Regions from separate parts of the Homo sapiens genome. Here region 2 is linked to region 1. Evidence: fine-mapped expression QTL. Tissue or cell type: prefrontal cortex. Region 1 holds a variant in brackets; the other region holds the start of a gene. All regions are shown on one strand. Distances are between the middles of the regions.

Region 1 (16,626 bases):
TGGTGTAGAGGGATTCAGGGCTCCTGGGTTTGGTATAGAGGATGCAGCGCTCCTGGATTTGGTATCAAATTTCCTGGATTTGGTATCAAATTTCCTGTCTCTTAGACTCTCTTTTTCTTTTTCCATTCTTCCAGCTTGCCTGGCTGCCTCTTCCCTGTATCTTACTCCAACAGGGGTCAGTGCTGGCCATGGTTATGTGGAGAGTTTCAAAAGCAGACATTGTCTCACAGATGACCTCTCTTTCTTACCCTAGAAGGACTCCGTGTAACATGAGGCATTCCTTTTAACATGTGGCATTCCTTTTAACACATGTTGAGGTGGTCAAAGAATACTTTTTGAAATAACTCATTTAATACAATATTTTATTTGGCAGACGCATGTTGATATTTCTCCTAGGAAACAAAAATGTGGACATAGGTTATTATTTCTCACTGTGGTTTTTAGCAGGCATAAGAATTGGGCATCTCAGAATAGAATGGAATACAGGAGCTTGATGAAATTTTAGAGACGGTCTAGCTCAGATGCTCTGCAGGAGACGAAACTGAGACCCAGAGAGCTGGGGTCGCACGTCCAGTCCTCGTGGTGCCCACGGAGGCCCAGAGTGTGGGAATCCTCCTGCAGCAATTCCGGCTCGTGGTCTAGTGATGTTCCCATCTCCCAGCTCCTACGGGAGGAAGTAAAATGAGGTGTTCATGAATTTCCCTTTTCTCCTGTGAATATGCTCTCAGGCTACAAGATTCTCTTGGTTTTCTAAAGGTTATGTTGATAAGTGTCTCTTTTTCAACATTTTAATTTGCATGTATATATGTGTATATATATGAATCTTAATCCATGGCTAGGCTCCTAAAGACAGCAGTTTTCTGTCAACAATATTTAAATAAACTCAAGCAGCTTCTACTCTCCCTCTATATGACAGAAATGCATTAAAAATCTTTGTATTATGGCATTTTGCATTCATATATTCAGTAGCAATAACAATTTTCCTTCACAGACACAGAAGGTTTATGCTTTCTCTACCAAAATTTTCAGACTTTGCCGGGTAGGACTTCATAATCATAATGATAAAACAATCTCCCTGCTGTAGTCCATGGCACAAATCCTCCTGGAGACAGTTTGTGAGCCTTGAGGAGGGACTCTCATTCCAACAAATAGTGACAATTTTTGCTAAATAAAATATTGCCTTTATTTCATTGAGCTGGGAATGCCCTAAGCATGAGATGTTGCTGTCTTTCCTCATCAGGCACCTGGAGCCCCACTGATGGCTGTCTGTGTGCCTTTCTGTGGCCCAGTGACGACTGGCCCTTAGGGTTGGGGCCCAATGGTTTTCCTCCCATGGGCTCACCACAGTGTCAGGCAGCTGAGGACTTTGCTAACATGTCCTGTCCTCGTTCACAGAGTCCTTGGCTCCGTCATTGTGTCTGTCTAGGACGTGCATGGATGGCTTAGGAAGAGAAGGCAGACAATGGACAGAACCAGACAAGGGGCCAAGCACAGGGCTGGAAAGTCACTCAGACAGATGAGCCTGTACCTGGGTCTCCTGATGTGTGTGCTGGAGGGTCTGGGAACCGAGGCTGACATGCCTGGTGTCAGGTTAATTTCCTTCTGTGTTTAATATCCTACCCCAAAATACATCTTTCAAGACTTTATTATTATTATCATTCTAGGACTTTTGTTGATGGGACATCTCTGTATGATCTTATGTGGCTCATTAAGGGATTCCTATTTATGACTTTAGCCACAGGGCAGGGGTATCACCTTCCTTTTCATTCTCTGATTACTCACTCACCCACTGAGAACTGCTGTGATTACATCCGGTGCCCCATAGGAGGTCAGGGCCACAGTTAAGGGATGGGGGAAGTAAAGTCAGGGGAAGAGGAAAAAGACGGATCCGTAAGACATGGGACGTGGCATAGAATTGTTTAGGAAATCCCAGTCTTCCTGAAAACTTAGGTTGTTTTTAATGACACATTTATTGGAGACAAGCCGAGTGAACTGAAGGAACCTCTTTTCTTCTGCCTCCATTTTTTTTTTTTTTTTTTGAGATGGAGTCTTGCTCTGTCTCCAGGCTGGAGCACAGTGGTGCGATCTCGGCTCACTGCAACCACCAACTCCCTGGTTCAAGCGATTCTCCTGCCTCAGCCCCCAGAGTAGCTGGGATTACAGGCACCTGCCACCACGCCTGGCTAATTTCTGTATTTTTAGTAGAGACTAGGTTTCATCATGTTGGCCAGGCTGGTCTCAAACTCCTGACCTTGTGATCTACCTGCCTTGGCCTCCCAAAGTGCTGGGATTACAGCTGTGATCTTCCTCCAATTTTTGTGGCTACTGCACAAATATGGATTTAGATGACAAATATCATGTATTAAAAAATCATGAGACTTGGTCCTTCCAGGAGTTTAAAAAGATGCCGTTTTGAATAAGACTCGAAGGCACAGCTGGGGGTTGAGATGAGGTCACCATGCTGTTGCCAAAGTGATGTCTGAAGTTTTAAAACGGCACATCAGTGATGGAGCTGCCAGACTTAGCAAATAAAAATACAGGTTACCCAGTTAAATGTGAATCTCAGATAAATCACACATGATTTTTTTTGTGCTATAAGTATATCCCATGCAATATTTGGGATATACTTATACTAAAATATTATTTATTATTTATCTAAAATTCAATGTAACTGGGCTCTTGGCAATCCTACCGATGACTATTTTATATAAGCAGAAACACAAACCATGAAACGTGTTTAGAGTAACGTCTTACCCAGAGCCAGGTCGTCTGAGCCCCAGTCCCTAGGAGGTGCCTCTGCTCTGTCGCTCTTCACCGGCAGGTCACCCCTGGACCCGTTGGCTTTGCTGGCTTAGGGGTGGGGTGTGTGTGGGTCAGGAGGCAGGAGGCTGGAGTATGAAAAGGAGGAAGCCGAAGGTATTAAGCGGAAGGGAAAGGAGAACAGGACCGGGATCTTTTGCATCCCGTCTGGATGATCACGCTTGGGGGATTGATTCATGGATGGATTGATTCATAGGATCGTTTATGTATTCAGGGGTGGTTGAGGACCAGGTTCTGTGCCGACCGTCGAGTGGTGGAAGCCGATGTTGCATAGGGAGTTACAACCCAGTGTGGGCGTCTCCTGGAGGAGGTTCAGGGGCCACTGAGCATGTTGCAGTGGTGTCACGCATGCCAGCTGGGGACCTGGCACCGAGTGGAGAACTGGTGGATGATGAGGACAGTGAGGGGCAGAGGGTGCCGCGGCTCTCCTAAAACATCCACGTGAATGCAAAGAAAATCACGCCAAGTTGGTCGGGCACGGTGGCTCACGCCCGTAATCCCAGCACTTTGGGAGGCCGAGGCAGGTGGATCACAAGGTCAGGAGTTCGAGACCATCCTGGCTAACACAGTGAAACCCCATCTCTATTAAAAATACAAAAAAATTAGCCGGACGTGGTGGCGGGCACCTGTAGTCCCAGCTACTTGGGAGGCTGAGACAGGAGAATGTCGTGAACCTGGGAGGTGGGGGTTGCAGTGAGCCAAGACCACGCCATTGCACTCCAGCCTGGGCGACAGAGTGAAAAAAAAAAAAAGAAAAAAAATCACGCCAAGTTAATATCGAGATTAGACACAATGGCCCGGTGCCGTGCTGAGCCATATTGGAGACATAGGATAAAAAAAAAATCCAGTATCAGCAATTCTGTCTTTAAAATTGTGATATTTTGTCTGTCATGGGTTTTTGTACTAACTTTGGTTTTTAAAAACATATTGCATTAAAATGTAGTTGGCCTTTACCTTCATGACTGAGATTTTGTGGCCAGGGAGGCGGCTTGCTGGCCTCCCCACACTCGAGCTCCTGTGTGAATAGAGTCTGTGGGTTGTCTTTGGGGTTCGCCTGACTCCCCAGACACTCTCCTGCTTCTCCATCTCTCAATGGTGGCAGCAGCAGGCTCTGAGGTAGATGCAGACGCCAGAGGTTTTATTTGCACAGGGCCAGGGACACGGCAGATAGGAAGTGAGCAGAAGTCTCGTGGCCTCTTTATATATGATATTTATCATCTAAATCCATATCTGCACGGTAGCAACAAAAATTTGGGGAAGGGGAAAAGAAGTTTCTTCAGTTAATTTGACTTGTCCCTAAGAAGGGAGTCATCAAAAGACAATATATATTTTCAGGAAGATGGCAGTTTCCTAAACAATCCCGTGCCACGTCCTGTGTCTAATGGATCCGTCTTTTTCCTCTTTCCCTGACTTCACCTCCCCGTCCCTTCACTGTGGGCCCCACGTCCTGTGAGCACGGGGTGGGCTCAGCACAGTTCTCGGTGGGTGAGTGAGTGATCGGAGAATGAAAAGGAACGCGATATCCCTGTCCTGCGGCTTAAGTGGTGAATGGGAATCCCTTAATGGGCCATAGAAGATCGTAAACGGATGCCCCATTTGTGACTCATAACTCCTCTAAATCCACCACTAGATGAGAGGCACAGAGCCTCGTCCTCCACAGCCGTGTGATGAAAGAATGAATGATCCCATGAGACCCTATAGCTTTGGACTGTCCCCATTCCAAGACTATCAAAAGTTTTAGAACAATCAACTCATTCATTCATTTGTTCAACAATTATTTGCTGGTTCCTGGCATTGGCGGGTTCCAATCTGGCTCTGGGACCATCTCCTCCTTCCTGACCCCATCACTTTCCCTTCCAGAGGCAGAGGCCGTTCTCCGTCCCCTTCCTTTGTCCTGGTATTATCCCAGCCAGGGCACTCGGGCCCTGTTTCTTCCTTCCTTCCCTTCCAGGCCTTGGCTGGCGGAGCAGGAGAGCAACAGGCCTTTGGCAATGGCAGGTTGACCTGCTGCTCTGCCTCGAGCGTGTGCTGGTGTCCAGGCCCAGCAAGGCCACCCTCCAGGCCTGTCACCCGGCTCCTGCGTGGGAGTTGCCTGACCAAGCTGGACGGCAGCAGGTGCAAGTCCGGCAGAGATAGGGTTATTGCATTTGCTCCCCATCAGCCCTGGCTGCAACACACTCCTGCGGTAGCAGGGTCACTCGCGTGTTCTTCAATTGTTGGCATGGATTCGGGCGCCTGGAGGTGGATGGAGTGGGGGCTACAGCTGTGCAGCCTTGGCAAAGAGGAGAGACTCAGACCCTCAAACCCACAGCCACCCTTTGTTCAAAGTGGGGAGAAGAAAACACAAGGACTTGAGTGTTGATTTGGGGTTGGATTTTCCAAGAAGGAGTCAGGTTCATTCCAAGTGAAGAATTTAAAAAGGGGCTGGAAGAGGGCTTTCTCCCTCTGGAGATAGGGAAAAACATGTTCTCTGATTCAAAGGGCAGCGCTGCTGTGCACAGCTCATGCATTATTCATGAGCCATCCCACTTCTAGGTCTGACGGACAGTTATTTATAGCATATCATCCTTTTCACAAAATGACACTACCCAGGCTGCAGGCTGAAGTACATTTAAGGTAAGTGTCCTGAACTGGGTGGAAATCCTATTGATGTTTCAGAATATATATAATGTGCGCTTGAAAATGACTATGTATAACTTGTATTTTTGCCCCATTTCTCCATAGTGAAACAGGTTTTCGACAGCCAGACCCAGGGGTGAGCTATGGCTACGAATGGAACGGCCTGACATCTATCTATATCTATTTTAAAGCAGCAGGAGAAACACCTCAAGCCCGTCCTGGCACTGTGGGTGGCTGTGTGATGGGAGGCTGAGGAGACTTCGTTTTCCTGTTGGTGTAGTGTCTGGATTTTCTCTGCATTTCCAGCCTATTCACAAACCAGTGATGACAAACCAGGCAGGTGCGGCCAGCCAGTGCGGGTCTGCCCAGGCCACTGGCCCCCGCCTCCTGGACATTTTAGCCGGGCGTTAGTCACTCCACTGCGCGCAGGTGCACTTCTGTGCAATGATGGCTATGGCCTCCATCCAGAGGTGGCAGAAGTCTGCGCAGAGCAGGTGACGCAGGCCTCAGAGGGGACCCAGGGACCAGGTGGGGGCAGAACCAGATCCAGCCAGCTGCGTCTCTGCCCGAGCGATAATTTTTAGGAGGGGGCATTGTGGCAACAAGTGGATTCTATGCATACAATACAGATAACGCTTTTTCAGAAAGCATTAAATAGCAACATTTTCTGGGCAGACAGCCTTCCACCAAGTAGGGAAGTCATACTCAGCTTTTAAAATGGAAAACAGCTATTGCATAATTATCATTTTAATCAGAGAATTCAGGGGAAATGGAAGAATCCAATTCACATCGATAGCCTTAGAATAGGCTAGGTCATCTCTTTCCCGGATTGTTCAATGAGACTGATTTCAAGACATGGGCCAGCCGGGCATTCCTCCCGGTACCCTGCTGCAACCTGCTCACCCTGTCTGGGTTCACTGGTGTCCTGGCAACAGCGTGGGTGCCGGGGCAGGCATCTGGAGATGGAGTCGGCAGAGAGCATGGCTCTGGGCTCCGCAGACCCGGCAGGAGCCCCGGCTGCAGAGAAGGAGATGTGGGGGAAAAAGCCTGTGCTAGTCTGGAAGTGGAGTCTGGAGCTTAGATTAGAAAGTGTGTTGACAGAAGGAATTCCCCACCGCAGTCCCGTTCCTGGCTGACAGTTCTCCCAGCAGCAGGATCTGTGGGAGCGGGACTCCAGTGCACTCGGGTCCTCGGTGTCTGTCCTTCCAGGGGTATCCAGGTCTCAGAGCACAGGTGCACACGGGTACAGTGGCTCTGTGACACAAGAGGAGGGTCACTCACAGTGGTCCCACGCACGGCGCCGACCACACAGACCCCAGAGGACACGTGGTGCTCTGGGCCTGTGACCAGCACAGCAGTTGGAGCAGGTGTGTGTCTGAGCTGGAGCTGGGCGGCCCTGCCCTGTGGCAGCGGGAATAAGAGGAGACAAGGGGCGGGCAGGTAATCACCGAGGAGCTCTTCCCAAGAACAGAGACGTTGCTGTTAGAATACAAAGCTGGTCCAGGAAGGGCACAGAGGGAATCGCGTCTCTGCTTGGCCACCCTGCCATCCCTTTGTCCCTCTCTTACACAAACATCGTCCATCCCCCCGGGTGCTTCAGACTGGACCTGGTGCCCAGGGCCCCTGACCACAAACCCTAAACACACCCGGGGCTCCTCCAGCGCCGAGTCCCCCACGCTTCCTCACCCCGCTCAACACACATCTTCAGTCTTGCACTTTTCTCTCTCTTTTTTTTTTTTTTTAAATTTTAGATGAAGGGAAAATGGTTTCACTCTATAAACCACTTCTTGTTTAGGGATATGTCAAAAACACAGTTAAAATTCATTCTCTTCTTTACAGTGAAAATTCCAGAACAGATGGAACACATCTTTTCCCACTTCAGAGCGCGAGGGGGGACGAGGAGAAGCATCCTCTGTGTCTCAGGAAGCTGCGTCATTAGTTCGGGGTCAGGATAAAGGGGAAGGATGAACGCATTTGTGTGTCAGGCTGCAGGGCACCCGCACGTGGAGAGAGTCTGCAGGCCCTCAGTCAATCACACCGATGTGAAAGCGAGGATGGAAGGGGAGGGAAATTACATTTACCTGTGTCCTGGCTGCAGCCACGATGGGTGCTGGGGAAAGTCAGGAGGACTCGGGATGAGAAAGAGGCAGTAACTCCCGGTGTGTTCTGTCTGGGGGACCCAAGAATGTCTGCACCATCACTTCTCGGTTCTCGCTGGATGTAGCGTGGGGCTCACTGGGGTCACACACCCTACGGGATTTTGAAGTTTCAAAGACCTCTGGGTTTTATTTGTCTCCTGACCTGCCCGTGTTCATCCAGGTGTTAATCTGCCACCATGCCCTGCCTTGCAGCGCAGGGAAGACCGCAAGGCCGCAGCACCCTACGCCCCGGACGACCCGCCGCACAGGTGTGAGGCCATCGCACCGCGAGGGAACGGTCACTAGGTGTCGCCGTCTTCCTCGGAATGGAAGCCACGTTTCTCCTGCACCGTTGAAATGGACTGGAACAAAATTTTCTAGACTTCAAGGAAACCATCCTTTCTAATAACAATGAGATGGTAATTAGTAGGGGAAGTGGCATAAAATTATTTCACCATTTAGTGAAACCATGATTCTAAACTACAGAAAAAACTGTCTTTTTTAAAGCTCATTCAGCCGGGTGCAAACCGCCTTGCTGGCGGGCGGCACCTGAAGGTGACCTGGCCTTGTCCCCCCCTCCATCCCCCCAGTTTCCTCTCTGTGGTGAACGTGGTTGGGGTTCACGTCTCACCCCCCATGCAGACCCCAGCAGATCCTGAGGGCAGCGTGTGGACCATGTCCGAAGGGTCCAGAGGAAGATCCCACATGTGTAGAATACAGACCCATGGCCCCTGGGAGAGTGAAGGACACGCAGATGATTGGCAGCGGCCACTTCTCACACAAGCAACCCCTCTCTGTTTTACTGATGAGAAAACAGAGGCTTAGAGCGATTGTGTAACTTTCCCACAGCCAAGTTCAAACTCAAAGTGGGTTTCAAAATTTAGGTTTGTCCGGCTCCGAGACCCGTGTTCTCTGCAGGGCACTTAGAGGACTCCTGTGCTGACCTCTCAGGCAGCCTTCTACGAAGGGACGCGGAGAATAACAGGAAGGATTTCCATTTCCTTTTTCTAGGAAAAAA[A/C]CAAAAGGCAAGAGGTAGGAATTCAGAGCTAGAGTCGCTTTACAATTCGGTTCCATTGTCGAGACGGAGAGATTCCACGACCATGACAGAAAGTGAGACTATTTAGGATTTGCCAAATAGGATGTTTTCTGAACCAATCAACATAGAACGGAAATGAGTTGGGACAAATGGCAGTGCAGTGAGAGGAAAGGTGAGTCTTCCAGCAGCCCTGCCTCCCTCATCCTGGGAGGAAACGTCCGCAGAAGCCGGGCTCCCCTGTGCCTTCCCCAGCCCTGCCTCCAGGAAGCTCTCTGAGCATTTCCTACAGACCCTGCCCCATGCTCTTCTCCTGCCGGTTTTCTCCACGTGGTTTTCTCCATGTGCAGAAACGATGATTCGGGTCTGGCACAGTGGTTCATGCCTGTAATCCCAGCACTTTGGGAGGCCAAGGCAGGTGGATCACCTGAGGTCGAGAGTTCGAGACCAGCCTGACCAACATGGAGAAACCCGTCTCTACTAAAAATACAAAATTAGCCGGGCGTGGTGGTGCATGCCTGTAATCCCAGCTACTTGGGAGGCTTGAGGCAGGAGAATCGCTTGAACCCGGGAGGCAGAGGTTGTGGTGAGCTGAGATGGCACCACTGCACTCCAGCCTGAATAACAAGAGAGAAACTCTGTCTCAAGAAAAAAAAGATGATTCGGAGCTGCCTGGAACATGGAACAGCCCAGCGAGTCGCTGGCTGCAGTTCTCAGACCCAGGCTCTGCCGATCTCATCCCAGGCTGGAAGAGTTGCCACCAAGGCGTGTGGGTGCCATTTGCTGCAAAAGTTCTTATGGAGAACCATGACACATAACCGTGCCAGCTTCTCATGCCGGGAGACCGCAGCGCCTCTCCACACAAGTGGGGCCTTCCTTCTGCACTTTTATTCTGCAGTTGGGCTCCCGCTCCAGGGGGCTCCGTGTTTCTAAGAACCACAGCCCAGCATCATTAAAGAAGGCATTATTTTGTGTTTAGTAGAGCACTAAATTGGTGAAATATAGTTGTGATTCTGGTAGTGAATATCCCTGTTGCCACGGTAACGATATTATGTCATGGGAGGCTGTCTCGAGTGCTCCTGGGAGCAGCCAGGTCTCCGTGAGCTCCTGTTTACTCTAAAGACTCCGGCAGCCCACATGTGTGCACGCTGAATAAAATCGTGCTGCGGGACCACAGTGCGGGGAGGCACCGACTCTGTCATTCTGTCAACGCACCGCACAGTCACGAACATCAGCATTGACATGAAATGGACGGTTAGGGAGCTGCAAAGGACTCATGCTCCTCTATTGCACGAATTTGTCTTTTCATATTCAAAGTACTTGTAAGAGCTCCAAGTTCCACGTACTCAGCCACTAACCTCAGGCATCTGCACGGGAGACTTGGTACACAGGCTCACATGCATGCACGCACACAGGCACACGTACAAGCGCCCGTGTACACACAACAGTGTACACATGCGACACACATTCACACACATGTGCAGATGCACACACACAGATCAGTGTGAGGAAGAGTCAGGGGTTCATGGAACAGCCCCTGCTCTGCAAGCCATGTCTGGCCGTGTAGGGGAAAGAGACAAAACAACACGCTGGTTACCTTGGAAGAGGAAAGAAAGGGAGAGACCTGCAGGTGTTGGGCGCGACACAACCCAGAGCCACCCTCGTCAAGGGACCCTCTCCCTGCTCGATGCATTCCTCCCACCCGACATTCAGTGAACACAGGGAGGCTTAGTGTGAAGGACACCTGCAGTGTGTGTGTCTGTGTGTGTGAATGTGTGTGTGTCTGTGCACATGTGTGGTGTGTCTGTGTAAGTGTATGTGGTGTGTCACTGTGTGTTCTATGTGTGGTGTGTGTTTATGTGTCTGTGTAATGTGCATGTGTACTGTGTGTGTGGTGTGTCTCTGTGTGTGTGTCTTCGTAGTATATGTATGTGTTGTGTGTTTGTGCATGGTGTGTATGTGTCTGTGTGGTGTGTGTGTGTCTGTGTGTATGTGTCTCTGTGAATGGGTGTGTGTGCATATGTGGTATGTGTGGTGTGTGCAGCAGTGTGTGTGTGTGCACGCATATACACTGTGTGTGGTATGTGTGGTATGAGTGTGTGTGTGAAATGTGTGTGTCTGTGTGGTGTGTGATTGTGTGTGTCTGTGTGAATGTGTGTGTGCATATGTGGTGTGTGTGGTGTGTGAGTCTGTGTGTGTGTGGGGTGTGTATGTGTGGTTTGTGTGTTGTGTATGAGATGGAGAGAGGCAGGCCAAGGCGGGGAGATCGAGGAGGAGGAGGGGCTGGTGGGTCGGTGCTGCCAGCACGATGCTAGGAGTGACCCGGGCGTGTGGGAGGGGTCCTTTGCCACCTGGACCCCATCGCATGCCCTGAATCTCATTTTTGAACCCAAAGCTCAGAACGCTTCCTGGCTGTCTGCCCATCAGTTTCAGCCTTACCCTGAGCAGAAAGAGCTGCCGGGGTGGGGGGTGGGGGCGGGGGGGTTCTGCATTCTAATGGGGCGGGTTCTGCATTCTAATGGGGCGGGTTCTGCATTCTAATGGAGTGGGTACGGGTGACTTCAACAGTGAGTCTCAAGTTATTGTCTCTCTGGGAAAACACGCCCCCGTGACCTTCCCACCAGCACTGGGCACTCCAGGGGGTTTTGGGACAGGGCTTTCTGCAGGGTCTTGAGCAGCTGGCATCTCACCGACAGGTGTCTTCTGGAAACCTTCCGTGAAGACCTTCCCCTGAGGAAGCCAAGTCACCTGAGCTTTCTTCCTCATCGCTAAGTATAAACATCAGTGAAAAATAAGTGAATGTGGTAAGCTTTAAAACGGCAAACAAATGAGCCAGGCGTGCTGGCGCTCCTGTAATCCCAGCTGCTCAGGAGGCTGAGGCGGGGGAATCACTTGAACCTGGGAGGCAGAGGTTGCAGTGAGATCGCACCACTGTACTCCAGCCTGGCGACAGAGTGAGACTCCGTCTCAAAAAATAATAACAATAAATAGCAAACAGCAGAGAGCATCATCTTAAGGTTTTGAAAATACATACGTATTACTATTATGTTTAATACAGTCATACTAGGAGCACAGGTTAAATACTTCTGTGACTTCACAGGTATTCCCTGTCTCCCCTCCCAATGCCATTATGTGAACCAATAAAAGTGCAAATGGTTTCATCCCTGGTGGCCCCAGAGTCTCAAGAAGCTGAAAAAATTCCTAAGTTGCCTACAGGTTACAGTGATTGACGGAGAGAATGGGCATCTTTTAAAGTTAGTAAGCTAAGAAGGAAATATATGAAAATGAAAGTTAGGAAATGAGATAATTTCTTAAGGTCATAGAGTACACCTGGGCCCACTGATAATATTTTGAATGAAAACGGAAACGTACATCCCAATTATCGATGTTTTTGTACACACAATGCCAAACATCTTGATACTTAGACCCATAACACTTTAGCTTCAATGGCTTACGTTTCCCTGGCATGATGGGTGCCAGCCATGGGTCCGTCCCGAAACATGCTCCAGATCTGATGCTGAATGGCACTTTGGGCCCGGGCCACACCCCACCTTGTGTGGATTAAATGTGCTATCCCTTGTTGTTGGTTGTGCAAATTTTCACACTTTTTCATGCGAGACAGCTTTTGGAGTAGGATAAGTTCTGGCCTTTGAAAACGTACAATATCCTTTCTCACAGGTAAAAGCCAGAGGGTGCCCTGAAGCCCCTCTCAGGTTGTAAGGTTGTGGCATCCCCCTTTGGCGAATGAGGGGATCCCAGCCCAAGAAGGAGGGATTCCCAGGAGATCACACAGCTCCTCACCACCCCGCTCTCCTATTTCCTAAGTGTGGTGTGCTGAGGAGTCCACAAAGCTGCCTTGGGGATTTAACAAAAGCCTCTTCAAATAACACACAGGACAGGGCTCCCGGGTTAATCATCTTTCTTTGTCTAAGAAAGAAAGATCTTCCTAGGTTTTATATTCACACATATTTGTTGTGACTTCCTTTTGTGTCCATCAATCAAAGCTGTTCCCTCTCTTGGTTTTGGGTATGTCATTACCTGCAGGGCACTCGGTGGAGGTGAGGTGGTCATTGGCTTCTGTCCTGTTCTTCAGTGGTTTTTACTTAGCGATTACCGGCAATTTCACCATTACTGCAGGGCACAAATTTGTTTATTTTAGCACATTTTCTTCATAGCCTTAATCTGCTGTCAAGTCAATAATGTGCTCCCCAACTTCCATGATAAAATCTTCCCCCAAAAGAATCCCGATGGAGTGCTGGTCTCTAAGGACGTAGAGACACCAGAATGTTTTCTAAACCTTTTTGTCTTGTGTGCTGATGCTCAGAACATGGTCATTCGCAATCACTGAGCTTTGCAAAGCTTTTGCACGAGCTGACCTAATTCTTATCCCTGCTCCTTTGAAGAAGACGGACTTTTAGCTTTGGTAGTGTTGGGTGCTACAGAGCCAGCCTCAGATGTACCAGGTGTTATAGAGCCAGCCTCGGATATACCAGGTGTTCCCATGTTCAACTGGAATGGGTGCTGAAAACCTGTTTATAAACGTGTTCCCCTCCTTGTTTCAGGGGACAGGTGTTCCCATGGGTTGACTGGCTCCTTCAAACCCCAACATTCAGTCTTTAAAGGCACTGTCTATGCCTAAATGCCTTACTCACTAGTAGCAGCCCACTGGGTGATGGGGCTATGCTCCTCCCTCCTCCCGTGGGCATTGGGACTGGGATTCTTAGATTGGAGCAGGGAATTTCTCATCAGTCACTGTGTAATGTGAAAACCAAGGGAAAGCCCAGCGCCTCCCAAACCCTGGAGCCCCAAGTCATGTGAGGAAGCTGAGATCTAATCAGAAGGCACTGGCGAGATTGTGTTAGACAGATGGGGTCACCCAACGTACAGGGTGGCCAAGGCAATGATCAAGGCCAAGGAGAAGGGAGGGACTAAATACCGCAGCACCAGGATTGCTGGGAGCCGGGTGTCCTTCGCCTGCCTGGAGTTGATGCTTGAATGGGGGAAGCTGGGGCCTGGCCCCAGGGATGGCGAGTGTGAGAGGGTCAGCCCCAACATGAGAACCGCGGAGCCTCAAGAGAGGAACTTGGGACATCAGCAAGCCCCGTGCAGCGTGGGTGAGCAGCTTTCTGATTTGCTGGGGCCCTTCTTGTTGCCATGAACAGGAGTCCAGGAGTGACTGCATATGGTGTCCCAAGGAGCCTGGTAAATAAATGTGCGCTGGCTTCCTGGGAGTGAGTTATGAGGAAACGCTAAGGGCAAGAGGAGAAGATGGCTGGACATCCACAGCCCCTTGGTCCCGGGCTCTGACAGCTCCTCAGCATAATGAGTGGAAATGAAGGGCCTGGCCAAGCGAATTGGCCGATTGGCTTTCTTCTATTCTCATTGCTAAATTAATATTGCCGTTAATGTTTGCCAATATTTCAACCTCGGTGGACTGGCATCTAACAGTCTTGAGCTTGCAGAGGCCATTTCTGTGCTGGAGTTTTGGTTTTCGAGGTGCATTCATTCATAAAAGCTGATGTTCCCCAGAAAGTAAGCACTGAGAGCTACTATTTCCTTGAGCATTCATTTTATTTAGGTTCTAGAAATTTACGTGATATCGGATGAAGAGATTCAAATAGTTTGTGAAGGAGTTAGGAATATACAACCCCTTCCTTTTGAAGACATTTATAAACCTATTGAACATATCCTGGAAGCTGGTCTGTGGACAGCCCAGTGCTATACACTGGGGGAGTGAGAGACAGCAAAGCCGTCTCCCTCCTCTGCTGGAGGTTTTACCCTCAGAGGAGAGGCTCACATATTAAAGCCCTAAGACAAGAGAAATTAGGAGTGGCAATGTAATACTGTAAAGTACAATCAGAGCATGATGGAAATAGATAATAGCTTCGTTATTTTTAATGAATGCATTGACTTAAGAATATACAAAGTTTCCTGTGTGACCAGCTGAGTCTCCATGCACAGAGAACAAACCCTAAACAACACCAGTACTTCGTGAGCAGTTGCAGGGATATTCTTTAATGCTCCTCTAACTCACTTAATCTTGATTTGACCTTTCAAATGTAAAAGAGAGTTTTATTGTTCATCTGGATGTCTAGTAAATTCAATAAATAAAGTTCAGAAGACCGATGCCTAGATGAGAAATAGAAGCTGATGACCTTTTTGTTTTGGCCTCAGCCATGGTGACCACACAGGACCGGGGGGTGCTTCTGGCTTTGGCCATCCCAAAGCCTTTGGGTCTGGATGAGCCCCAGGTAACCGAATGATGGACAATCGCTTTTATAAAGTGACAGTTTACTTCTGAGATCGCTGTTATTAAAATGAACACTGGATAGGGCTCTCACGAAAGCTAAAAGCCTTTGTTTGTTCTGGTCTCAGTTCTCAGGGACCTAAACATGACACTGTTCATGTCAACCTCCATGTACTTTGCCCAGTCATAGAAGATGCAAAACATAGCAAATTGTTTTTCTTTTGACTCTTGATCAAAAGGGGGAGCACAGCAGTCAAGAGTTTAGAAAAGTACTCTCATGTTCACACCTGTGTCCTACAGAGTTCTGCGATTTGGCAGGCAGGCTGTGTGAGTGGGCCCCTCTCCTCACTGAAAGACATTCTTGGTCCTCAAAGGTGAGGTCCATGGCTCCAGCCCTGCCTCGCCTCCCCTGGCCTCTATGTCGACTTTCCATTACGGATGGAGAACCGCTTCTGGAGTCAGAGTCTTCGCAGGCAGTAAGGCTCGTGAGAGCCTCAGTGCAAGACGAACCATCTCCATGCGCTGATGTGGTTTTTCTGAAGTAAAATAAGGACTAATTTCCAAACTTCATGCAAACAAGGCAAAGATTTGTCGATGACGGTGGCAGTGAAACTGCGGGATTGTCAACATCAGATAGGGTGGACATGGGGGCCGGGAAAAGCCACGCAGACACTAGCTGTCTCAGGACCCATGTTGTCTGGATTTTAAAGGCCTATTTTTCAGCCTTGCTTGGTTTGAAACAGTTCATTTCTACCTTGAGCCTTTCCAGGGAGTCTAGCGACCAACTGACAACCTCAATAAAGATCCATTCCTGGGTCAGTAGCAATTCAATGATGGGTTGAGCTTCTGAAGTTACCAAAGCTTTCATTTCCTGTCCCTTCCCCACATGAACTAAGTATTCCTGGTCCAGTCAAGATTACACCAGACCGTCATGTCAGGGGCCCAGGACCTTCTTGCTGGTTAATAGGCTACAGTAGCTGCAGCGTCATTCTCTTAGCAGGGTTTTTCAAATTTTGGATTAGGACCCATTTGGCTCATGAAATTAATGTACTGAGCCTCTACAAGCAAGCACTGAGGAAGAAGAAAAGAAGGAAGGAACTGGAAAAAAAAATATTTCAATGCAATGCACATAATGATGCATGGTCTCCTAAACTTTTCCGTGTGTGTGTACGGGCTCGATCATGGTGTAAAAATCTATTAAAAGGCTATCATAGCCACTACTGTACTGCAATATATTCCAAGCAACATAGACAGAGGCTCCCACATCTGGATTTTTTTTTCCTGTAAAAATAAGAAGAGGCCGGGTGTGGTGGCTCACACCTGTAATCACAGTACTTTGGGAGGCTGAGGTGGGTGGATCGCCTGAGCTCAGTAGTTCCAGACCACCCAGGGTAACATGATGAAATCCCGTCTCTACTAAAAATACAAAACAATGAACTGGGTGTGGTGGCATGCACCTGTAGTCTCAGCTACTTGGGAGGCTGAGGCAGGAAAGTCGCTTGAGCCCCAGAGGTGAAAGTTGCAGTGAGCCAAGATCGCACCACTGCACTGCAGCTTGGGCTACAGAGTGAGACTCCAACTGGAAAAAAAAAAAAAAAAGAAGAAGAAGAAGAAATTGAGTCACAGATTTTGTAAAAAAAAAAAATTAAAAATATTTATTAAGATTTATATTTATTTGAATCACCTTTTAAAATGTCAAGTGGGAAAATGAGATTTTTTTCCATCAAATACATTCCTTCCTTCCTCCCATTCCTCCCTCTCTCCCTCCC
Region 2 (16,626 bases), 19 kb after region 1:
ATGGCCAAGAGCACACAGAGATGGAGCTGGGCTTGTTTGGAGGTTTCTGGTGATAAGTCCCAGCTCTTGTACCACCCCATCCCTACAGGACTCCCAGGTTTTCTGAACGGTATAAATGATCTCACAGTCAGGAAGCAGGACACCATAGCTCACCTGAGCAACCGGAGGGCAGGCAAGCAGTTAGCCAGTTTGCTGTCACTCTCTTAGCCCTCTGGTTCTGGCCTTTGTGAGTGAATGTGAATAGGAAGAACATGAAAGGAAAATAATCCTAATATCCCATAGTAGTTCCCCATCCAAGCACCCTTTCTCTTCAAACCTCCTAAAGCTTCGACAACCACCTGGTGCTCATGATCTCCTCTCTCATCTCCTCAGAAGACACGGTTCTTGGGTCTTCTCTCTCTTATTCTTCAGAATGAGTCTTCCCTCCAGAAACTCCTCTGAGATTTGGCTGTGGTCTCCCACGCCCTGTCAGGCAGCGACTGCAGGCTTCTGTGGTTCTCGTTTCCAAACCTCAAACCATGAGAGACATGGAGGCTCTTCGAAATGATGGTGACACTGCTCTCCTGGGGAGGGCTGGACATGGATCGTCCTTTCCCAGCTCCGCTTAATCTGAAGCAGGAGGATCTGGCTGAGAGCTGGGATGAACTTCAATCTGGTTCTGCCGGATACAAAATCGACTGAGAAATGATGCCACCAACCAAAATGGTTTCTGAAGTTTGGGAATGTAAACATTTTTTTCCTTCTTTTAGAGATTTTCAGATAATGGAGTCTGGTCCCTCTGTCCATGGGCCATCAGCACCTGCAGTTCACACCACACTTTCCAGGGAAGAAGGCATCTACAGCACACCACCCACTGCAGGAACAGTGCAGATTCCCACATCTACAGCACAGCACCCACTGCAGGAACAGCACAGTTTCCCACATCTACAGTGCAGCACCCACTGCAGGAAGAGCGCAGATTCCCACATCTACAGTGCAGCACCCACTGCAGGAACAGCGCAGATTCCCACATCTACAGCTCAGCACCCACTGCAGGAAGAGCGCAGATTCCCACATCTACAGAACAGCACACACTGCAGGAACAGTGCAGATTCCCACATCTACAGCTCAGCACCCACTGCAGGAACAGCGCAGATTCCCTCATCTACAGCACGGCACCCACTGCAGGAACAGCACAGATTCCCACATCTACAGTACGGCACCCACTGCAGGAACAGCGCAGATTCCCACATCTACAGCACAGCACCCACTGCAGGAACAGCACAGATTCCCACATCTACAGTACGGCACCCACTGCAGGAACAGTGCAGATTCCCACATCTACAGTACGGCACCCACTGCAGGAACAGCGCAGATTCCCTCATCTACAGCACAGCACCCACTGAGGGACAGTGCAGATTCCCACATCTACAGCACAGCACCCACTGCAGGAACAGCACAGATTCCCACATCTACAGTACGGCACCCACTGCAGGAACAGTACAGATTCCCACATCTACAGTACGGCACCCACTGCAGGAACAGCGCAGATTCCCTCATCTACAGCACAGCACCCACTGAGGGACAGTGCAGATTCCCACATCTACAGCACAGCACCCACTGCAGGAACAGCACAGATTCCCACATCTACAGTACGGCACCCACTGCAGGAACAGTGCAGATTCCCACATCTACAGTACGGCACCCACTGCAGGAACAGCGCAGATTCCCTCATCTACAGCACAGCACCCACTGAGGGACAGTGCAGATTCCCACATCTACAGTGCAGCACCCACTGCAGGAACAGTGCAGATTCCCACATCTACAGCACAGCACACACTGCAGGAACAGTGCAGTTTCCCTTGCGTCGCCCAGCATATGCAATCCCCACTGCACGGAAGTCACCTGCACAACGCTGGAGTTGCCAACGGTTTGTGTTTCTAAGTTCCACTTGGGAGTTAGATCTCATCTTTAATAATAATAGTTAAATCCTTGTTTCGTTCAAGTTTAAATGTGTATAAACTCTGAAATTCTATTTTTACAGATAGCTACAAAAGCTCACAAAATATATCACTTCAAATCCCTACATGTTATGTCTCCTGGGCATACAAACTACATTGATGGTAATGAACTACCAGAGTTTAAATCTTATGTTTCTTCTAAATAATGAACTCCTGTTTGTCAACCTGTATTTTCACTTTTTTCTATACTCCTGTGCAGTGTATTTAAAGAAAGAAATATGGAAAATAGTGAAAGACATAGAAAAGAGTGGTCTATCACCAACCTTCCCCCTTCCTCTCTTGTATATTGGAAATCTCCATCTATGTAGCCCAATTACATCTCTTCATTAGTCTGATTTGGTGTTACTCACTTTTAAAATATAGTTGTTTGCAAAGTCTGAAAATTATCTTGAAAAATGCAAATTTTTTAATGTGTACAATTCTATTTGTGCTAAATAAATTTAGACCTTTCTTATATTCAACATTATTGTTGGAATTCTGTCCTCAAAATCTTCCTTCAAAAACAGTTTTTCTGTGCATTTCCACTGAAAGTACCCTCACCGCTCCTCAGGCTGAGCTCAGTCATTCTGCACTTGGAAATCTTAGCCGATAGATTAAGAGAGGTTTAACCAAAATGTACATATGACTGAACAAATTTTCCCATCACAGTAAGAATGTTTATCAACCTTTATTAAAAATAGTAGTGTCTAAAATAGTGAACCTAAGGTAATGATGCTTTTACATGCACCATGATCTTTCAGCCAAAAAATATTTTCACATGAATGACAACTTGGTTAACAATACCTGTAGTGTATTCTTTTCTTTTAAAGTTATTTTAAGGAGAGTTTGTGATCTGATTTCATATTTGTATCAGTTGATAATTTGGGAAAATCGCTTTAACATTTGGGATTCACCTGATATGGAAGACTTGTAACTTCTCATTTAAGAGTTGCTGGTCTCTTTCCTTATGAACACAACATCATGCTGTAGAGTGAGAGTGAATGGTAGGGGTAAATCCGCCCCTCCACTCATCCACCCACTCATCCAGACATCTACCCACCCATCCACCTATCCATCTATCAATCCGTCCACCCATCTACCCACCTATCCAACCATCCATCTATTCCCCCATCCGCCCCTCCACTCATCCACCCACTCATCCACACACCTACCCACCCATCTACCTATCCATCTATCAATCCATCCACTCATCTACCCACCTATCCAACCATCCACCTATTCCCCCATCCACCCCTCCACTCATCCACCCACTCATCTACACACTTACCCACCCATCCACCTATCCATCTATCAATCCATCCACCCATCTGCGCACCTATCCAACCATCCATCTATTCCCCCATCCGCCCCTCCACTCATCCACCCACTCATCCACACATCTACCCACCCATCCACCTATCCATCTATCATTCCATCCACCCACCTACCCACCTATCCAACCATCCACCTATTCCCCCATCCACCCCTCCACTCATCCACCCACTTATCCACACACCTACCCTCCCATCCACCTATCCATCTATCAATCCATCCCCCCATCTACCCACCTATCCAACCATCCACCTATTCCCCCATCCGCCCCTCCACTCACCCACCCACCCACTCATCCATCTGTTGGTCCATCATCTTCCTATCTATTAATCTACCCATGGACCAAGCTCTTCAACTTTTTTTCAACACTGCAGAGGATTTTGCTTATTTTTTCATTTAAAAATATAACCTAAAAGAGAAATAGCAGAGAAGTGCTGAAGGTTAGAGAGCTAGAATCAGAATCAAAGTCTCTGAGCACAACCAGCCCATTTTTCATCAAGTCTAATAAAATAATTTGAGTACTTCTGCTTTCCTGAAATAAACAAAAATTTGATTTTCAACAAGCTACATGTTGATAATAAAGTTCATAAATCCTCTTCCACATTAAAAGGACACAATTTGAAATGGAGACACAATGGTCAGCTCTTAGCTATCTACATACCGAAGATTTATTTCCAAGACCCGTAAAAGAGCGGCACCCTTTGGCTCTTGCAAACACAGATGTCGATCATCACTACAGCCTGCCTGCTCATTGCTGGTTACACAGAACAATCTCCTCTGCTGTTTTTAGAATCTTGAGCTACTTCTGTTATTTTTTAAAAGAGTCAACAGCTATTTTACAGTTTTGTTTTTTAGGAACAATTTTCATTATATTTTACTCTCACGAACTTTTAAAAAATGATTTTGAAATGTTCCAGTCTGCCTATGGGCTGGCATCAAGAGTCAGCAAAGTCACAGACCTCCCACACTGTGAGATCAGACTAATGCTTTGTGTAATTAGCCAAGGGATACAAAATATTTACAAAAGAGACCTGACTTTGCAGACAGGCCCAGGTGCAGTCTACTTCCATCCAGCTTCTGGTGGTCACGAAATTTAGAGCAGAGACATGCAAAATTGCTGTTTCCCTCATCTGTGAGAGGCGGGGCCCAGCCAAATCTGAGCTCAATGTTTGTGGCAAAAATGACCGGGGGCCAGGAGCAGTGGCTCTAGCCTGTAATCCCAGCACTTTGGGAGGCCAAGGCGGGTGGATCACCTGAGGTCAGGAGTTCACGACCAGCCTGACCAACACAGTAAAACCCCATCTCTACTAAAAATACTAAAATTAGCTGGGCATGATGATGGGCACCTGTAGTCCCAGCTACTCAGGAGGCTGAGGCAGGAGAATCACTTGAACCAGGGAGGCAGAGGTTGCAGTGAGTTGAGATAGCGCCACTGCACTCCAGCCCGGGTGACAGAGTAAGACCCTGTCTCAAAAAAAAAAAAAAATCTCTAGATGTGCAGACCTTACTGAACCATTCAGGAAACAAATACACAATGCATTTGCTTGTATTTAGAGGAAAGCTTATAAACATAATGTTTTCTGTTTTCTTAAGCTGAGACTTGGGTAGGAACACAGTGGGAGGGAGCTGAGTCCACAGCCAGGAGAGCCTGAATCTACTGCTTGCGGCTTTCCAGAGTCCCAGGGAACTGTTTCCTCCAACTTAGCCTCTGGCTTCGAGTTGATGCCCTTTTCAATGAGGTATCCTGAGGAGCAAACCCATTCCTTCAACCTGAAGTGCCTCTCCTTGCTACTAAAATAGACTCAAGTAGATTGCAGTTTATAGCATTTTGTAGGTCTTATTTTAAAGCCCAGTTGACAATGGTTTTAGGAATTAAAACAGATGTGACTGTAGAATTTTGATCCTAAGCATCTACTGTTGGTCCTCCCAGTCTGATACAGCTCTGTCTGTAGACAGTCATCCCGGGTCTAGCCCTCACTTTGAATGACTTGGTTTTATAGATTAGTCCACAGTCTCAGATTTAATTAAGCATACATTTCAAATGAATAGACATACATTTAATGTACACACATACATGCCTTTAATGTTCAGATTTGGACCGGGTGTGGTGGCTCACACCTGTAATCTCAGCACTTTGGGAGGCCAAGGTGGGCAGATTGCTTGAGTCCAGGAGTTTGAGACCAACCAAGGCAATGTAGCAAAAACCCTGTCTCTACTAAAACTACAAAAAAGTAGCTGGGCATTGTGGCACATACCTGTAATCCCAGTTAATCAGGAAGCTGAGGTGGGAGAATCACCTGAGCCAGGGAGGTTGAGGCTGCAGTGAGCTGAGATCACACCATTGCACTCCAGCCTGGGTGAACAGAGCACAACCCCATCTCAAAAAAGGCAAAACAAAACAGAAAACACACAACCCCCCCCAAACACACAATGTTCAGATTTGGTGGAACATACATACATACAGGACATATGAGAAACCTCCAAGCTATGTGGAAATCCACACGTATACTGAGAAACTTTCAAACCAAAGAGGGCAAAGCAAGGGAGGCTGCGGCCTGTGGAGAGACCAGGCCAGGACTGCCAGGCTCCTGGGGCCTTGGAGGCACTCGGGAAGGGTGGGTTTCCTGAGCTTGCTCTCCAGAAAAGCTTTCCTCTTCCTCCCAGCCCAGGTGAAGCAAATCTCTCAAACAGGATGGCCTCAGGGTGAGCAGAGCCACTGGGCCGCAGGGGATCTTTCCTGGACTGTTGGGGGAACTGACAACCTCCTCACGGGCACGATGGGAGTCCCTTCTTTGAAAAGATCCCAGTGATTTGGTTTTTATATCTGATCTCTTTAGAAGCTCTTGCAGCAAAGACTATTTTATTAAACAAACTTTTAATGCTCTTTTCAAAGCCCAGGTTATTCCTTTAGTCTTGTGTGTGTGTAAGGAGTATCTTACCTTTCTCCTCTTCTTCATTTTCTCTTTTATTCCATACACTCTCTTTTTGCAAAGCGGTTTATATATGTCCTTATGCTTTCTGATGATTTTGGGAGGAAGATGAAAATATCCTCCATCAGAATCCAGAAGAGAAAAGGGAAGCAGAGAAGGCTCAGCTGTGGACACTCAGGTCCCCCCAGGGCTGAGGGGAGCTCTCATTCCTGGTCTTCCTCATTCCCCAATTTTTCTAGGCTTCTTGTTACCATGGTTACTCCTTGTCTGGTGGCATGAGGAGATGTCAGAGACCATTTTAGTGTCTATTTTGCCTCATTTTTTATCTTCATGAAGGATGGGTAAAGAAATACTGTCCCGAACTCAACAAAACCTTCTCAGGATCAGGGCTCCACCCTCAGACTTGGAATTCTGTGATGTTAACCCCTTCTGAGAGGTGATGAAATGTGTCCTTTTAAACTGTCTTCTGGAAAGAGATGTAGGAGGGACCGGAGAGACTATCTGCAGCAAGGCTTTTGCCAGAATAATGTTAACATTGAATGTGCACAGGAAGAGACCGGCATGAGTGAAACTGTGACGCAGCTGTCTACTTCCCGGCTGTAAGGTGAAAATGCACCTTCCCACAGGAGGCCCTCCCTGGCCCGGCCTGGACTCACCTCCCAGGCGGCGTCCTTCATGGAGGAGGAGCTGAAGTCTGCGGGGCGGGGGCTTTCATCCTTGTTTACGGGTCTTAATTCGTTCCTCAAGTGCACACTGTTCAAGGAAAGGATGTGTTGCCTCTGCAACCATGGTTTTCTCATTCAACGCCTACCCCAGGACACACCAAGGGAAGGACAGAGCCGAGACCCAGACAGGCTGGTGACAGCAGTGCAGACACATTTCCAGGTGGAGGGTTTGCAGCCTGCTCTAACTTAATGTTCCCGCTCCCACACTCCACTCCCAGTCTGAAATGCATTTCGAGGAGAACAAGTAAAACCTGCCCTCTTAGAGTTCAAAGTTTCCCGGAGACAGCTGAGGCCGATAGCTTATTGTTTAGGTAAGAACAACAGAACAGAGAGGCAGAGGGATTCCCGAGGTTTGCGGAGCGGATCGGTAAGGGTGAGCCCCGAACCTGTCTTCGCTCAGTTCCATAGTCGACAGCCTCCTTACCTACTGCAAGTGTCCAGAAAAACCCGTTTAGAGGACAAGAGGCTCCGGAAAGAAGCCTGCTCAGCTGCGGTTACTAGTCCTGTCATAAGTTATGTGTCTTGAGTGGACCATAAATTTGCACTAAAAAGACTCTCTTTCCTGTACAATCCATGCTTAGCCCTAATTGGCTGTAAAATTCATTCATACCCACCTTGTGTGTCACTCAATTAAAATAACTAGCAACACCACAGGACTCGAGGGCTGCTGGAAAAATGCAGGCACCCAGTGGGCTGGGCCTAAAGATGTACATTTTTCTCCCAGTGATAGCAGCTCTTGGGAAGGAATCGAGGAAAAACCGGTGACGTCTTGTTCTGAGCATCCACATATACACTGGAGGGGTTCTCAGCCTCCAGGCATTTCCGGCATCACAGGGCAGGACATCCTTCAGCTTATCAGAGTCTACCAGTGAGAAATAACACCAACCGTGCAGAGGAGCCGTGGACACCAGCATCCTCATCAGACTATAGTCCTCCCTCTGTCCCTTTCGTTGGTGTGGTCCTCCCAAGTTCTGTTTTAGCTCCTAACTTCTGTAAGCTAGCTCTTCCCGTTCAGTGATTAACGGAGATTCACCCTAAGTCTCCTGGCCATGTTTGCTTTCAGCGATTGTGTTTTTAAAAATGTAACTATAGACCAGCGTGGTGGCTCACGCCTGTAATCACAGCACTTTGGGAGGCCGAGGTGGGCGGATCACAAGGTCAGGAGATCGAGACCATCCTGGCTAACACGGTGAAACCCCGTCTCTACTAAAAAAAAATACAAAAAAATTAGCCGGGAGTGGTGGTGGGTGCCTGTAGTCCCAGCTACTTGGGAGGCTGAGGCAGGAGAATAGCATGAACCCGAGAAGCAGAGCTTGCAGTGAGCCAAGATGGTGCCACTGCACTCGAGCCTGGGCTACAGAATGAGACTCTGTCTCAAAAAAAAAAAAAAAATCGAACTATAGAAGTCTTCCTAGAAAATGGAAAATGACAAGAGAGTGTACTTTATCCTGGTGTGAAGTCCCTAAGATTTTAATGGAGTCCTAGAGACCCCATGTTATCGAGTGCTAGCGAAATGGCTGTGCTCTTAGCCAAGACAAAACGGACCGACTGGATCCCAAGCTATGTAGCTGGGTTAGCAAGAGGCTCAGATAGCGTCCTTCACTGACTGCCTGCAGAATGATGTGATTTTTTAGCAACCAGGTGTCAGAAATCATGGGGGATTCTTACACAAGCGGTGGGTGTGTCCCCTCTCACCCCAGCCCTGGGGTCGCCCAGAGCGGGGAAGCAGGGAGCATTTCCACCTGGGTCTTTCCTCTCTTATTAGGTTTTCAACAGCGTCATCAGCTCTTGGGAGGGGGGAAGAGAGAGCGTGTCCATTTTAGGTCCTTCCAGAAAGACCTGAGTGGCGCTATCGTGCTTCGGCAATGTGTTTCTTTTGACACTTCCTTGCTGTGCCCTGCAAACCTTGAGTGTGTTTTCGGAGATGATTCTTTAGAGACCTTGTCTCTAAAAAAGAGAGAGAAATGAAACCATCCAAGTTCATAATGCTGTGTTGAAGAGAAAATCACGAGGTGCTGTACGGGTGTGTAACAAGTTCTAATCTGTACTGGGATGTCTGAGAAAATGCCATTTAAACAGACACCTGGAGGGAGGGTGGACGGCTGGCCCAGGGGGTCCCAGTAGCTGAAAGCAGTGTAACTACAGGCCTTAAGGAAGGGGCATGGCACACCCAAAAAGCACAACACCCCCACTTTAGGATGGCAACACCACTGCTCCGGGACTTGGCATTTCTGTGACTAAACTCCGGCTCAGCAGAATGCAGTGGAAGGGGTTGAATTTGGAGATGTGGTCTGGGCACAGTGAGGCCTCATGCGCCTGAGAGCAGACTGCAGAGGGCCATGCTTGTGGGAAGTGAGGCAGGCCCCAGGGCACTAGGGGACATGGTCAGCCTTGTCTGCTCCGCCCCCGCGACACTCCCCCTTGAGGAGGAATGGCCGTCAGTGAGAACCGGCTCCTAGTCCTGGTACAGAAATTAACCACGTATGCCGTCTGGGGCCAGGGAAAATCTAACAAAAGCTTACACAGTTCCCTGCACCATGCTAAGTACCTCCTACACAGGATCCTATTTAATTTTCACAACCACTTAGACGAGGCGGTTACTTTTACCATCCCTATTCCCTATTTTCTATAGGAAAGCTGGGTCTGGAGAGCCTGAGACCTCCGGTCTTGTGAGCCCTCCCATTCAGCATGAAGCAGGGCCGGGTCTGGAAGCCAAGTCCACCTCGAACCCCATGCTCTTGGCCAGATGGTTCTTGAGGTCCCTTTTGGCTTGTTTTGGTTCAATTCCAAATTAGAGCCCGCCCCGCTGGTGTCTCTCTTGGTGAGAGTTATTTCAGTGCTGTGGGTGTTTTTCAGGCAGCCTGGTAAAGTGACCTATGTCTGTCTTCCTGGTTCTCCATCCAAACCTAAACAAGGGGACGGAGGTCTCTCCTAAAGATTGGCAGGAAAGCAAAACTCCTCAGAGAGGCCTGAACTCAAAAGTGCTATTCTTTTTAAACAAAGGTTGGACAAACTCACAGTGCACATTTAAAAAGGTTAAATCTGATATAGCCGGAGCAATATTTGTTTAACTACACTAAGTGAAAGATGATTTGGCTGAGGGACCAGGGAGAGACCTTTTATTTGATCTGATTTTACATAAACATTTCTGCACACAGAGGCTCCTGGACCTTATCATAACCATCATTGGATGTCCGCTCAGGGGATCCTTCATCTTCTCTCCAAATGTCATTTCTTAGATGCTGACTCCAGAGCCCCTGGTGATAACTCAAGTTTATTCCTTATCAGATGCACCCAGCTGTAGACACAATACCTGGAGACTGGCTTAGGTAGATTTTTTTTTTTCTCCAACAAAAGTTTGCAGACGGAAAGACGTGTATGAAAATGCTCTGCAGTGGAGGGGCTATCGAGAGATGATTTTTAATCGTCTAAAGCGAAGAGCAGCACTTGGAAGAAGGCGTCTCTCTTGCACATTTCCCTTTGCACTGGCTGCATGGGAAGCCACAGGACTAGTGATGTCGAGAAACTCACCTTCAGCAAGTGTGAAACTCGTATGTGCTCTAAGGGACCTGAGGAAATGAACATTTCTTCAAATAAACCATAACTCAACGGATCAGAATGATCCATTAGCCTGATTTTTGCCTGCTTGTTGCATATTTAGGAAGCAGAGCTCAACCTCAGGGAAAACAGGTCGTGTTAGGGGCTGCTGTAAGAAATCATGTCGAATGTATTTCCCCAGGTTGGTGTTTATGGTGTAGACTCCCGCTCCACATGTAATTTAAAGGTTGATGAGATTTATATTGGGAATGACAAGGCAAGGTACTGGATCATCTGAAATCATTAAAGGGATGTTGGTGTGGGCTCACTGACTTCTGTTTATGGAGACAAGGAATAAGGAAACAAGCTCATATTTTATATAAAGAATTTCACAAGCCAATGGGAACAATTCAGTAATGCTTCTTTAGCCAAGGCGCTATGACTTGAATACCCGGCTCTATTAAGCTTATAAGAAATCAAAGTTCAGGAGAGAAGTTAGAGCTTTGCTGCACCACACAACTCTGGAAGCTCCTGGAATATTTTCTTAGAAGAAGGAGAAGGAAGAGGAGGAAGAGGCAAAGCAAAACTAAAGTACAGTCGGTAGCCTTTGCAGTGCAGGAGCCCACAGTTGTGATGTGCAGATCTGGCTTCTCCAGGGGCGGGGCTCAGGCACTTATGAATGAATTGGCTTAGAAGCCTCTACTGTGAGGTTCTGGGTCTGTTTATCAAACCCATGCCGGAAACGTCGGAGTTGTTAATAGCTTTGGAGTGAGACATACCAGGGTTCAAACCTTAATTACATCAGCTGCTAGCTGGGTAACCTTGGCAAGTTACCTAAACTAAGCTGGGTAACCTTGGCAAGTTGTCTAAATGAAGCTGACCTCTGTCAACCTAAATAACAAAGAAGGAAACTATCTAAAGGACAATGGTGTTTATTCGGGCGTAGGCATTAAGATGGGCATGTGTGTGCCATGGTAAACTAATTGCTTATCCAGAGAAGTAAAAAGAGATAATTTTTTTTAAGAAAATGAGGATTGCAGAATTGTTTTGAGATAATTATCCTGGGCCACAAGGATCAATAACAAGGGTGATGCCTGTCTGAGGCTGGACAGGCAGTTGCTGGCAGATGTCCTGGCAGAAGTGGTTTTTTGTGAAAAGTTGCAATGCCTCACTCATGAGAGCCCTCCCTCCATGGCCTTCCCCAGCGTGTCAGGGTTTTAACACAGGGAACTCCATTTGGATTCTGAAAATTTTCCCTCATGAGGTTGCATGAGGACTAAACGCAACAGTGGGTATGAAGGGCTTGGCATAGTACCTGGCTCGTGTGAATTACTGGTTAGAGAAGAGATGTAGGAAGTCAAATAGGGTAAGTAAAAGAGGACTTGTTGAAGACTACTGGATTCTTTGTAGTATGAATTCTTCTTTCTCCAACTTTGTAGCTTGGGACTTCTGTCTTGGCAAGTACAACACTTTGCAATCCTCCTCACAGCTAGGAAGGGCACAGGACTAAATTCTGACCAATGGACAGGACTGCCTTAAAGGAGAGCGTAAAAGCTGCCCCCTGCTCGTCCTCCTGGCTGCTGTGCGGAAGTGCTGGCTGGCACCTGGGCAGCCATTTTTTACCATGAGGCAGAGCAGTGAGTGAGATGAAATGAAGGAGTCTGGGACCCTGATGCCCGGGAAGCCATCACCCCAGCCCAGCCCTACCACCTCCAGTCTCGTAGCTGTGTGGGGGAGATACCCTTCAATCTCCTATAAGTCATGGATTTTTCCTGTTTGTTACATTCAACCCAGCAAAATTCTAGCTGATATTCAAGATCCCCGAATTAGGTAGTTCAGCTGAGCTCAGGAACTGGAAGAGCTGACGTAAGTGGTGAGGTGGAGGTGGCCTCAGGAAGAGGTGGAGCTGATGATGGACACCCTAGGAGAGGAGACACTGTGAGTTTCTCTTCCTGTCCAGATGAACTCACTCCTGATGCACTGGCCATCTTGTTTTCTGAAAACTTCTTTCTCTTTGGTCCTATTTTAGACTCAGAGCAGTTTGGGAGGCAACTGGTTTTATTTGCACAGTTATCACCTGTTCCAATGAAGAAGAAACACAAAGATGTGCTTCTGTGATTTGAAAGTTTATCCAGGATTCAGGCTTTTTAGGAGTCTATGAGGGTATTGCTTGGCTGAAATTCTCCACATTGCCACTGGTTACTTATTATCGTTTCATCCACATCAGTGCTTCTCAAACTGCTGAGCATTAGTGTCACCTGGGGAGCTTTAAAACATTCTGAAGCCCAGCCCATACCCCAGACCGGTTAGATCACAAGTGGAGAAGCTGGGGCCCCAGCATTGGCAGTTGTTAAAGCTCCCTGGGTGGACCCACCGTGCGGAAGGTGGGAGAAGCAGCAAACGCAATTCTTAGTCTCTAAGTGTGGTCCCCAGGCCGGCAGCAGTGAGAGTTTGTTGGAAACACAGACTCTCAGGAGCTACTGAATCGGAATGTTGTGTCTTCCACAAGCTCCCAGGCCGTGTGCTTCGGTGCCAGGAAGATCAGGCTGCAGGGGGCGTTGCGCTGGTTCCTGGTGAGTGCCATGCCCTTCACGGACTCCCCTAACTCCCCACCTGCCAGCGTTTCTTTCTGTTTGTCTTTCAGGTTGGTTCCTTCACCACATGGATGTTGCTTGGTCCTGCTGGCCATTTAATTCTGCTGCCTTTCAGGGAGCAGAGTGCGACTTTTGCCTTCCTTTTGCCACTTGCCAATCATTTTTTCTTCTTCTCCTTCCTGTTTTGCAAATTGTGGCCACCACACACGACCCAGAAATGACTCCTGGGCAGTGCCACCGCCTCCTCCTGACCCACTCATCTAACAGCTTCCTCTGGCTGCTGGTATTGTTAGGAACAGCCACCCTGGGCCTCCAGCAGGGCCCTCACAAAGTGTTCTGTTTAGGGAATCACTGAACAACAACAGGATATCGTCCTGGCCTTTCTCAGAACCTTCTCTTTGTTTCGTGTTTCAGCCCTTCCTCTACAAACCTGTTCCCAGCAGAGCCAACCCGTAAAGTCAAGTTCTCCACAAAAAGGCAGAGTCAGTTTTCTGATGGAATGTAATTGAAACAGACCTAAGTTAATGACATACAGCATATTTCTTTCGGGCTGTGTTGATACCAGCAGCAATTCCCTGAGCAGAAGGAAGTTCCTACCTGCCACCACAGCCTGCTGCTTGCCGGCCACACGGCTGGCACCATCCCCTCCGCAGGGTCATTCGCAGCTGCCCGTGGTCACACACTCAGCAAAGTCCTGAAAGCCTCAGCGCACTGGGGTCAGCTGGCCATGGGGGTGTGTGGGAGGTGCCACAGCAAGCCCCTCCTGACCCTAGGCGTCCCTCCTTCTGACAGCAGAGGAAAGGAGAGCCTTGGGCTGGTTTCAGGGCTGGGTGCAGCCTGGGCTACACATATTTTTGAGAGGAGATTTGGGGGCACAGCTGGGGACTCCTTAAGCCACCATCTCTCTCCTTTGTGAGCCTGAGTACATGGAAGACCCTACCGACTACAGCTCACCTTTCGGATTAGGGGTTATTTACTTCCAGGTCATTATTTTTAAACTTTTCAAATTAGAATATAATACTTGGTATAGATTTCAAAAATCAAACTTCATAGAATTAAAAGTGAAAAGTCATCATCCATTTCATTCCGTTTCTTGATTTTTTTTTTTTGGTCCCAGTGTAACCATCGCAAGTATTCATTCATGCACTCAACAGTATTTATCAAATTCCTACTGCATGCCATGAACAGCTGTCATTACTGGGGCTGCGGTGAACAAAGAAGTGCCCCTGTGACTCATACCTGAGGGGTGGCAGTGGGGGTGGCCATTGAAGGTAGGCCAGCAAGTCCATGAACATTTCAGGGGTGACAATGTGGGAGGGGTAGCAAATGAAGGGTCAGATGGTCAGACGAGGGCTGCTGCAGAGACGGTAGACCAGATGGCTTCTGAGTTGCCACTGGACACTGTGAGTTGACCTGTGTCCCCATGGAAACACTCATTGCATTCTGTGTGTTTATCTGAGTATAAAGATGCACTTGTCCACCAAGAGATGAATGGATAAACAAAATGTGGTCTATCCATACTATACAATATTATGCAGCCTTAAAGAGGAAGGAAATTCTGGCACATGCTGCCACACGGACGACCTTGGGGACATTTTGCTAAGAGAAACAAGCCAGTCTCAGAAGTGCACTGACTTATGGTTCTAGTTAGAGGAGGTGCTTAGGGCAGTCAAAATCACAGAGACAGAAAGTAGAATGAATGGTGTTGCCAGGGGGAGGGAATGGAGGAATGGGGAGTTTTATTTAGTGGACACAGGGTTTCAGTTTGGGAAGATGCAGAGTTCTGTGGAGGGATGGTAGTCACGGTCGCACAATGTGAATGGATGTCATACCTCTGAATTGTCCACTTAAAAATGGTTAACTTAGCACATCTTATGAAGTACATATTTTACCACAGTAAAAAATTATCAATAAAATATATCTTGAACACTTTTCTCTATTCATACTTTTAATTTAATTTTAATTTTATTTAATTTACTTTTATTTTTCAGACAGGGACTCATTCTTTCACCCAGGATGAAGTGCGGTGGCAGGACCATAGCTCACTGCAGCCTCAATCAACTCCCGGAGCTCAAGCAATCCTCCCACCTCAGCCTCCCAAGTAGCTGGGACCACAGGCATGTGGCACCACACCCAGCTAATATTTTGTATTTTTTGTAGAGATGGAGGCAGCGGGGTGGGTGGGTCTCGCCAGTTGCCCAGGCTGGTTACGAACTCCTGAACTCAAGCAATCTGCCTGTCTTGGTCTCCCAAAGTGCTGAGATTACCGATGTGAGCCACTGTGTCTGGCCACAAGTATTATTACTAATATACCATAATTATTTATGTCTGTATTTCTTTATATCACAGGACTAACACATGTGTATGGGATAATCTTTTAAACCTGATGCTTTTCTGCCCCTCTGTATCTCCTGATTTTTCTCAGTTATGTGACTGTGTTTAAACTTCCAACACTTATATCATTTAGAAGTTTCTCTGATGAAAAGCCTCCCATGATTCCTAGTCTCATGCCCTGGAAAAAACACTTTTAACAATTTCTGTGTCTGCTTCTCGATTGCCCAGCCTTACTTGGTGTCTGCTGATGCTCGTTTAGAAGAATTAATAATCCAGTAGACTTACCTACCAGGTGCTAAGCAAACCTCTTGTTCTTTTGTTGTTGTTGTATAGATGAAGGCTTCCTATGTTGCCCAGGCTGGTCTCAAACGTCTGGCCTCCCGTCCTTATGCGCCAGGACAACAGGACTGAGCCACCGCACCATCCAAGTCTCTTGCTTTTTAATAGCTTTCTTATTTTTCTTTTATTCATCCAGGGGTTACTTTGTGAATTTAAATAATTCACTTAAAATAACATTTTGAAATTTATCAACTTTATCTACTGTTGTATGAGATATGAGGAACTTAGCAAATGGACTCATTCTTCATTTTCTTCTTCCTCTCTCTCCTGATTTTTCCAAGTTATGTTATTATTTTTAAATTTCCAAAGCTTGTGTCATTTAGATTGTTCTATAAATATAATTAAGCAATCAGTGGTTGTCTAAGTGTGGTTTCTTCTTAAAATGTATACTCAATAAATACATTTCCAGTATCATGAATATATAAATACTTTTCACTCTAGGAAAAATAATAAAAAAAAGGTCTTGATGTCCTAAGCCATTAGGTTCTAAAATGTGTCTTTTTGTTCATGTATATTGTTATAAAAGTGAATAAATGGGATTTTTGATACCATGTATATGTGGAGAGTGTAGTGGAAATGCTTTTGGTTGTGGTGGTGGTGGTGGTGGTGGGGTGGACAGGAAAGATGGCCTCATTTATCTGCATAAAAGCTGATCAGTTAAAAGTTCCTGAAAAGAGAGCCTGAGTCCTGTGGGTGACACTGAAGTCTCCTCCACTTTCCTCTGCGGCTCTCAGGCCTCCCTCCCTTGGCCTCCTTGGCCTCCCTCTCCGGGCGGGTGGTCCACTCACGTAACTGCTCTCTTTACTTCTGTTCAATCTCTTTTATCTCAATAACACTCTGTGCCTGCATGCCACCT

Alleles and levels. Positions count from the first base shown, and alleles are read on the strand shown. Sizes are in standard deviations (SD) of each study's normalised expression.
With allele C in place of A in region 1, the expression in prefrontal cortex of the gene that starts at base 6,626 in region 2 is lower (moderate effect, 0.51 SD a copy in BrainSeq).

The links. PIP is the estimated chance that this variant, and not a neighbour inherited with it, causes the effect.
Region 2: it holds the start of LINC02668, and the variant in region 1 is fine-mapped to the expression of LINC02668 in prefrontal cortex (BrainSeq, PIP 0.95).

The regions. Positions count from the first base shown.
Region 1 is chr10:3,231,919-3,248,544 of GRCh38, forward strand. It overlaps LINC02668 (long intergenic non-protein coding RNA 2668), which reads right to left. Exons shown (of 3, transcript NR_187504.1): 3 at 346-664. Among named protein-coding and RNA genes, the nearest start is that of LINC02668, 17 kb to the right of the region's middle. RefSeq lists an enhancer at 4,891-5,390. The variant A/C (reference allele first, on the strand shown) is at 8,596.
Region 2 is chr10:3,250,894-3,267,519 of GRCh38, forward strand. It overlaps LINC02668 (long intergenic non-protein coding RNA 2668), which reads right to left and starts at 6,626. Exons shown (of 3, transcript NR_187504.1): 1 at 6,251-6,626; 2 at 5,567-5,664. LOC105376353 (mucin-5AC-like) reads left to right here. Exons shown (of 3, transcript NR_164119.1): 3 at 750-2,461. RefSeq lists a silencer at 11,955-12,120.